Linked DNA regions of Homo sapiens: all the other regions are linked to region 3. Evidence: fine-mapped expression QTL. A gene starts in region 3. Each other region holds a variant in brackets. All regions are shown on one strand. Distances are between the middles of the regions. Region 1 overlaps LINC01554 (long intergenic non-protein coding RNA 1554). Region 2 overlaps LOC124901029 (a long non-coding RNA gene). Region 3 holds the start of GLRX (glutaredoxin).

Region 1 (2,763 bases), 34 kb after region 3:
ATTCTTTTTTTGAGACGGAGTCTTGCTCTGTCAGCCAGGCTGGAGTGCAGTGGCTTGATCTCGGCTCACTGCAAGCTCCACCTTCCGGGTTCACGCCATTCTCCTGCCTCAGCCTCCCGAGTAGCTGGGGACTACAGGCGCCCGCCACCATGCCTGGCTAATTTTTTGTATTTTTAGTAGAAACGGGGTTTCACCATGTTGGCCAGGATGGTCTTGATCTCCTGACCTCATGATCCGCCCGCCCCAGCCTCCCAAAGTGCTGGGATTACAGGCGTGAGCCACCGCACCCAGCCCATTGCAGCAATTTCTACATGCCAAAGCCTTGCCCATGCTTCTTGTTTGATGACATGATATCTTGGGTTTGGTCTTATATCAGCACCCACCACTCTACCCATTGATGCCACTTAATAGATGCTTCTCGACATGCCCACGCAGGCCTCTAGCCACTTAAGGAGAGATTTTCAATTTACAGTGACCCAACCAACCACTCGTTAGATGCTCTGATCTGTTCCTCTCACAATTATTACTTTAATTTGCTGTCCTCTCTCGGGCCGTGAGGCGACAAGCTTGTAGGCTGCAAGGCAGACAGAGTTGAAGATGTATTTAAAAGTGCTTATGCGCTATTAGCAAAACTTACTAAATTCCTGCTGTGTTTAGGGAACTAGACCACAGAGCACTGTGAGCCAACACAGTTCCTGCCTCAGAGAATAGTCACCCAGACAAGATTTTAAAACTTTTCATTAGTTTTACCTGATTGATAAAATTAGAATGGAGAAAATCAGAAAAGTAAAAAACGAAAAAGCAGCTAGTCATAGTCTCACTATCCAAAACCAGTGCTATTCATATTTTGATTTATTGCCTTCTGGTTATTTCTTTATTTATTTTTAGTTTTAAGAAAATTAATACACTTCATTTTTTAGAACAGTTTAAAGTTTATAGTAAAATTGAGCAGCTAGGACAGCTGTTTCCCTCTGCCCTCCTTCCCTGAACATATTCCCTTCCCTATTATTAACATCGTGTAACAAAGAACTTGTATTAGTGCCATATATTTGTTACAATTAGTGAACCAATATTCATACATTATTATTAAATAAAGTCTATCATTTACTTTAAGGTTTATTCTCTGTGTTGTACAGTTCTGTGGGTTTTGACGAATGCAGGTCAGTATCCATCATTTCAGTATCCTACAGAATAGTTTCAGCATTTATCTTTTGTACCGTCAGCTCCTACCATTGTACACTCCTGCCTGCAGCTTTTTTTCTTGTTTCTTTATTTTTCATATGTGAGCCTAACACAAGCCTTCCTTTATGCTATTGTACCCTTCCTCCACATGTTTATAAACTCTTATAAACATCATGGGATACAACATTCTATACTTAACCATGCCCCTAATGTTGGACATTCATGTTGATGACAAGCGTTCAATTATCATATAGGATATTTTAAAATCATTTCATGGAAATAGATTTCCAGGATCTAGATAGCATTCAGGGGAAAAAAATAATTTAGAAAGAAACAGCATTGTGTGGTGTCCCCCAGCACCTCCCAGACAAAAGGCTTTTGTCTGAAGGTTGGAGGCCTGTGCTGTCTTGGCCTAGTGAGTGCCAGTTTCCGCATGGCTGCCCCTCACCCTTGGGAAGGCTATTGGGGGG[T/TGGGGG]GGGCAGTGCTGGCCTGGGTCTTGCTTCCCTGCTCCTGCAGGAAGGTCTGGGCTTCCTCATTCACTCCCTTCTACTCTCATCCATCAGCACCTTCAAACCGAAACCTGGAACTATGGTATTCTCTTTGGCTCTTAGGACGGGTTGGCTTAATGGGGGAAATATTAATAGCACTGGTGTCGGTGGAAGTGACCTTGAGCCATGTAAAAAGATTCTGATAAAACGTGTCACTCTTGTTACCTATCAGGATCAAACTGCATCACGGAAGCTGCACACGATGACACCCTGTCTGGAAAGTTTTTGCCAGAGGGCAAAAGACTGCAAGCAGAATATCCCTTTGCCATTTCTCATGTAAGTGCACACCAGAACTAATAAGAATAATTTGAGAATAAGAGTACTTTCTTTTTTTTTTTTTTTTTTTTTTGCTGTGAAACTGATAACCATAAAATTTGGTATCTAGAGTCCTGGAGTGTAACAGCTCCTTCTCATACATTAGCTTCCATTCATTACCCCACAACAGTTCTGCATGCTAGCTGGCGTTATTGCCACATTACAGTGAGGGGCCTTGGCGTCTTGGGTTCCTGAGAGATGACATTGCCATATGTGGCTCTTCACGACTGTCCCACAGGCCCTCAGCTGGAATGTGGCAGAACTGGGAGCTGAATCCAGGACAGTGGTTTCCTCATCTGCTCTAGCCAGGAGCAGGCCAGGCCACCCTTCTGGACACAGTCTATCCCACGTGGGGACAGACTGGCCAGCCCCAGCCCGTGGGTCTCAACGCGGCCAGAGCTGCTGTGAGAAATCTTGTTTGTTTTAGCCTTTGGAGTCCTGTCTGTTCTCTGACCTCTGACCCAGAACTGTGTGTTCCAACCACTTCCCAGTCTGTTGTCCTGGCTCAAAACAAAGTGAACGAAAGCTCTTTCCTCAAGCCCTGCTCTCATACTCCAGGGCTCTGTGAAAATGAGTGGTATGGGCACATGGCTGGTGAGTCACTGTGGCCCTAAAATGAGCGGGAAAATAGAGGGCAGGTCCGGGCCTCGCAGGGCACTAATGGCAGGGAAGCAGGAGGGTCAGCATCAGGAGCCTGGCCTTTGGCCCGCAGAGACCTGAGTC
Region 2 (2,763 bases), 24 kb after region 3:
GTTCATATAGTTTGACAAACATGCTTTTCTAACCTGTGGGTCAGATGGAGATGTGGTTCTTTCTTGTTCCCTGCAGACACCCTGGTCTCCCTTTGTATTAGTCCATTTTCACACTGCTATAAAGAATACCTGAGACTGGGTAATTTATTAAAAAAAAAGAGGTTTAATTGATTCACAGTTGAGCATGGCTGGAGAGGCTGCAGGAAACTTACAATCATGGTGAAAGGCAAAGGGGGAAGCAAGGCGTGTCTTACATGGTGGGAGGAGAGAGAGAGACAGCAAGGGAAGGGGACGTGCTACATTTTTAAACCATCAGATCTCATAAGAACTCTCTCACTATCACAAGAACAGCATGGGGGAAACCACGCCCATGATCCAATCACCTCCCACTGGTTCCTCCCTCAACACTTAGGGATTATAATTCAAGATGAGATTTGGATGGGGACAGAAAGCCAAACCATATCACCCTTCTTCTACATATCCAAAATGTTCCCTACCTTTTCAATTCAAGCCATGTGTGAGATTGGGAAAGTTCTCAATGTGCTTCAGTGATCTTATCTGTAAAATGAGCAGCTTGGACTAGATCAATGGTTCCAACTTTAAAAAAAGGAGTAGAATTCTTTGTTCAAACAGAACTTACACTGAACCCCCATAAATAAACAGATAAAACTGTTGCTATTAAAATGTGGGTGGGACCTGGAAGCCTCCTTGGTTGGCCTCAAGGATGGCTCTTGAGGTACCTTCATGAGCCTTTAAGACTCAGATGAACAGCCAGGCCTGGTGGTTCATGCCTGTAATCCCGGCACTTTGGGAGGCCATGGAGGGCGGCTGACCTGAGGTCAGGAGTTCGAGACCAGCCTGGCCAACTTGGCAAAACCTAGTCTCTACTAAAAATACAAAAATTAGCCAGGTGTGGTGGCGGGCACCTGTAGTCCCAGCTACTCAGGAGGCTGAGGCAGGAGAATCTCTTGAACTCGGGAGGTAGAGGTTGCAGTGAGCCGAGATTGCACCACTTCACTCCAGCCTGGGCAACAGAGAGAGACTCCATCTCAAAAAAAAGACTCAGATGAACTATTTCAGAGCCTCAGACCAGATGTTCTCCAAGATCTTTTCCATCTCCCAACATTGCAGTCCTGTTTTTAAGTGCCACATCTTCTGTGAAGCCTTTTTAATACCCTGACTCATGCAGATTGCTTCTTTTTCTGTGCCACTTAGCGTTTGTGACTATGCACACACACTGCCCGTGTTTGTACACTGAACCACGTATGGAGATTGTCTTTCTTTGAAGCTTGTACCTCTATGCATTTCTTTTGGAAACTGACTCAAAACTGACTAGTAAGGTACAGAATGTAACTGAAAGAACTCAGGAAATGGGGAGATAAATTTTGTTCACAGTCCAGGGAAAGGTCTGCCCTCCTGGGGCAAGTCGCCTGTGCTGGCATATGGTGAGCTGCTAGCCCAAAGCAAATAAAATCTGGATAGATATGAAGCATGGGTACCAGGCACAGATGGGCGGCACAGACCTAAGGTCCCCATAATTGGTCCGTCTCCCAGAT[C/CT]TTTTTTTCCTGGTGCTCGTGTTGGCCAAGCTGTGGTAGTTGGAAGGCCATGGAAGATGTTTGCATAGCCTCACCTTTCAGCGTCACTGGGCCAGCCACTGCAGTAGATGGTTAGGTTACTACTAAAGACACCATCAGGGGGAAAAGCCTGGGCTTGTCTCTACTACCCCACCTGCCTTAGTTGTTTTCTTTCCACTGTGGGTCGAGTTCTGCTTTCCTGAATAGCGGGCTTTTTTACTGTCATCCTCAGTCTGGGGTTATGTGTAAACTTTAGGGAGCTTAGAAACATACCTCACACTGGATGTGATTTTTGCAAGACCAGCCATGTTCAGTGGGACCTACCCTAGGGCAGTATGTAGTGAACAGATTCTGGAGGCTCAGGAAGAGACATTATGGCTGGAGCACCACCTAGTGGCAGTGAAGAACAGTGCATGTGATGAACCAATGATCTTCCCAGTGAAGTGTAAATGGGTAAATATTAAGTTAAATCGCTTTCAGAGATTCCCTTTCTCCAAAAACAATCCCATTTAAAATATGCTTTAAAGCAAAAACTATACTGGACATAATTTTTAGTCTTTTACTAATTATTCCAAATATATCAGTGTCATCATAATGAAGACTTATTATAGAGTTCTCAGTGATAAGATGCTTAATATTAGCCTGTAAATGATTGCTATCATTTACAAGAGGAATTAGGAGAAAGAATGTGGCTAATTCAGTGGAAACTCACTTCTGAAAATTATTCAGTTTGCCACAGATCTTTTGGAATATTGAATCTTAGAATCTTTGTGTTGTGAAAAGTCTCAAGGATACACTAGCCCTGTGCTGAACATTTTCTTAGCCATGGAACTCTTTCTTCTAATAAAATCTTATTCTGCCACCTGTATTACCTTCAAACCCTTAGAATGGTCAACAAGGGAAGCCATGCAGTTGTCTATATGTTCGAATTTGAGGTACATATGAGGTATAGCTTATGCTGTGGTCATACTGAGCTTTTCCACAAACCTAATAAAACATATCCAAAAAATTATCACCACTAAAGGAGTCATCTTCAGAGGCAGTACTTTTATGCCAATATAACCACCACTGATCAAGACAATTTGGGGACTTCTCTTTTAAAATTGCCTTTGTATTAGTTTATACTGGTGACATGAAAATCATATTACATTACTTTGGGTCCTACTTGTTTGGAACAAAAAACTGCATT
Region 3 (2,763 bases):
AAAAGCTCTCTAGGTGATCCTAATGTGCAGCAAAGTTTGGGAACCAATGGCTAAAAGGTCCTCAGGGTGGCAGCCACAGTGGGGCCCGTAGTAGTGTTTGCACTGCCCTTTACACCTCTCAGGGCCTGGGCATCCTATGCAGCTGGTGGTCCCACTAGGCAGCAAGAGCTTCTCTCGTCATTGTGTATACTCCAGGACCTCAGCACACAGCAGTAGGATAACACACTAAGCCCCCTTTCTGCACCAAAATGCTGACTTCTTATTAGAGAGAAGGGGAGAGAAACAACCTCCAATGCTTTATACTCAGAACCCAGAGACAACCTTGTAAGTCAAACTAAAACTGAAATAGGATATGTGCTTGGCCTAACACTGTGCTGTAGAATTCGTGCATCGTAAAAGAGAACTTAGCTGAGCTGGTGGGACATTTCTCATCCCACCTCACAGCAGAACTGATACAGGTGATGTGGCTGGCATCCCTCCTGAAGCCCAGGACGCAAAGCCAAGGATGCTGAAGAGAGGGAAGTCTTTCGGATGGAGGAGAGCAATTTTTAGAGGGTCCCACAGTCTATTCGTAGCAAATGGGACTCTGAGGTCACCTAATCTGGTCTTGCAGCTGGGATCTTTGAGGACTACTGGGGTGGTGACTTGCCCAGGATCACACAGCCAGCCATTATAAGAGCCAGGCCAGAACTCCAGGCTATGATTCCCTACAATGTGGGGCCTGGAAACATCCATAATTAATTTAGAACAAGGGGCAGATAACGGTACATTAGATTTTTCCAGTGGGAGGAATTAGATAAGGAAGAATGAGCAAATTAGAAAAAGAAAGCCTAGAGAAAAGAATGAAGAACATGAATCTCATGTTAAATAACAAACACATCACACCCGGCCCTCCACCCCAGCTTCCACCTCCAGCCCTGCCAACTGAAAACTGTCATTTCCTGGCAGTGCTTAAAACAAAGACTCTAGATAATTCCCCAGGGACTCACCGGCAAGCTGCTGGTCCCACTTACCCTGCCGCACAGCAGACATCAGCTGTACTCCCTCTTCTGCCCCGTGAAGACCTTTGGCTGCAGTGCCGCCGCTCATTCAAGTGACCGAGATCCTCTCTAAGGCGCCCTCCCCCACACCCCCCGCCCCGCACAGCCCTCTGGACGCCTTGAAGTACGGAGCCGCAGCCTTATCCTAAAGAAAGGCACAGCTCTGACAAGAAAAGGCAATCCGGGAGCCTTTCCCTAGCCGTTTAAAATGAAACTCACCGTTCTTGCTCCCGTGAGCTGTTGCAAATAATCTTGAATCTCGTTAGTGTGGTTGGTGGCTGTGATATCGACAAATTCCAGAAGCCCTTGTTTGATGGGCAATTGACTGAGGATCTCTTGGGCCCTCCTGCAGTACGGGCAGGTGGGCTTGATGAACACAACCACCTTCCCAGGCTGGATTTTGCAGTTCACAAACTCTTGAGCCATGCCGATGGGCTGCGGTCTCCCCGGGAAGAATCCTCAGTTGCAGGTATTGCTTGGGGTATTGAGCCCCGACCCAGCCAGTTGGCTCCTATTTAATAAGGAACCTCCCTGGAGGCGGAGTTTGCCTGGTAGCTTGCTCGAGTTTTAAAGGGACAGCTTCGAAGACATTTCCATCTGGTATACTTCACTAGTTAGCAATGCCCAGGAATGCAATACTTGCTATTTAATCATTGGTAGCTATGAAAGACACTCTGGGTATCTTTGTTGTCCTTGGACATTTGGGGAGTGCCTGCCCATTGGCAATGATCAGAGTTTAGTCACCTCTGGGGAAGCATAAAGTGCTTACTCACAAAGGGGCTGAGGAGGCAGTGACTTCTTAGAGCAAATTCTTGTTTTCCCTCTAGGAGATACAGTTGTATTTTAAAATGCAAACAGAATCACTTAAGAAACAGAACACTTGGAAATCTCTTTAGAAGAAGTGAAATTGAAACTGTGACTTTGCACTCCTCATGAAGGTTGCTCTCACAGCATTTTGCTTGGACTGTATGGTGGGTGTTTGTTGTTGTGATCTTTTTAATGGAATTCATTCTCAGTATTTAAAAATCTGGAGGTCTCACAAAACAATTCGGACTTAAAACTTCTCTCTGAAAAGTCAGGTCGGGCAATACAGAGCTTGCACCTTTTAGTGGAAGCTGCTGGGGCTGACAGCTGTTGCCCCCTTTGTATAGGGCAAGTAGTGGCTTTGGTTTGCCACAGGTCCCAACGACAGGCCCATGCCTGAGACACCGGCTTCACCCCATAACCATTTGAGTTGGTAACCCTTGAACAGCAGTTTAATATGGAGGCAAATTCCAACACAATCCTTGATACAAAACTACAGATGAAATGAGAATCTTTTTTTCTGGTTGAGCCTATGTTTGTGACCCTCTGCTTTTAACTGTTTGTGAGGGGAAGTAGTGTTGTAACTCAGACACCACATTCACTTCAAGTGTTATAAGACACGGGTTGTAACAGTAGGAAATCTTTCGCTCTTCCCCAGGGTGCCCATTCTCCTTATCCCGCAAAGCAAAGTCCTCTACTCCTGGGTCTAGTTCCGGCCCCCTCTAGTGTATGGTAGCTTAAATAAACAAATCAAGGAAAAACTATGTCCTTTAAACGTGAATCATCCTTTCCCCAGGAAGTTTTATGGTGAAACCAGAGTATCTTCAAAGAGGCGGGGCCAAGGCCAGAGCTGGACACCACGACTGCCACGTAAGAGGAATCCCAAGCATACTGCGATCAAGGGAAGGGAAGAAAATCC

The links.
Region 1: its variant is fine-mapped to the expression of GLRX in whole blood (INTERVAL, PIP above 0.99).
Region 2: its variant is fine-mapped to the expression of GLRX in lung (TOPMed, PIP 0.98).

Annotation. Positions count from the first base shown.
Region 1 is chr5:95,854,981-95,857,743 of GRCh38, forward strand. It overlaps LINC01554 (long intergenic non-protein coding RNA 1554), which reads left to right. Exons shown (of 3, transcript NR_026936.1): 2 at 1,898-2,001. Among named protein-coding and RNA genes, the nearest start is that of LINC01554, 4.1 kb to the left of the region's middle. The variant T/TGGGGG (reference allele first, on the strand shown) is at 1,653.
Region 2 is chr5:95,845,217-95,847,979 of GRCh38, forward strand. All of the region lies in intron 1 of LOC124901029 (a long non-coding RNA gene), which reads right to left. The region is part of intron 2 of LOC102724720 (a long non-coding RNA gene); the gene reads left to right. Among named protein-coding and RNA genes, the nearest start is that of LINC01554, 5.6 kb to the right of the region's middle. RefSeq lists an enhancer at 1,848-1,897. The variant C/CT (reference allele first, on the strand shown) is at 1,557.
Region 3 is chr5:95,821,197-95,823,959 of GRCh38, forward strand. GLRX (glutaredoxin) reads right to left here and starts at 1,530. Exons shown (of 3, transcript NM_001118890.2): 1 at 1,260-1,530. The coding sequence starts at 1,466. RefSeq lists enhancers at 1-41, 1,958-2,047, 2,278-2,763.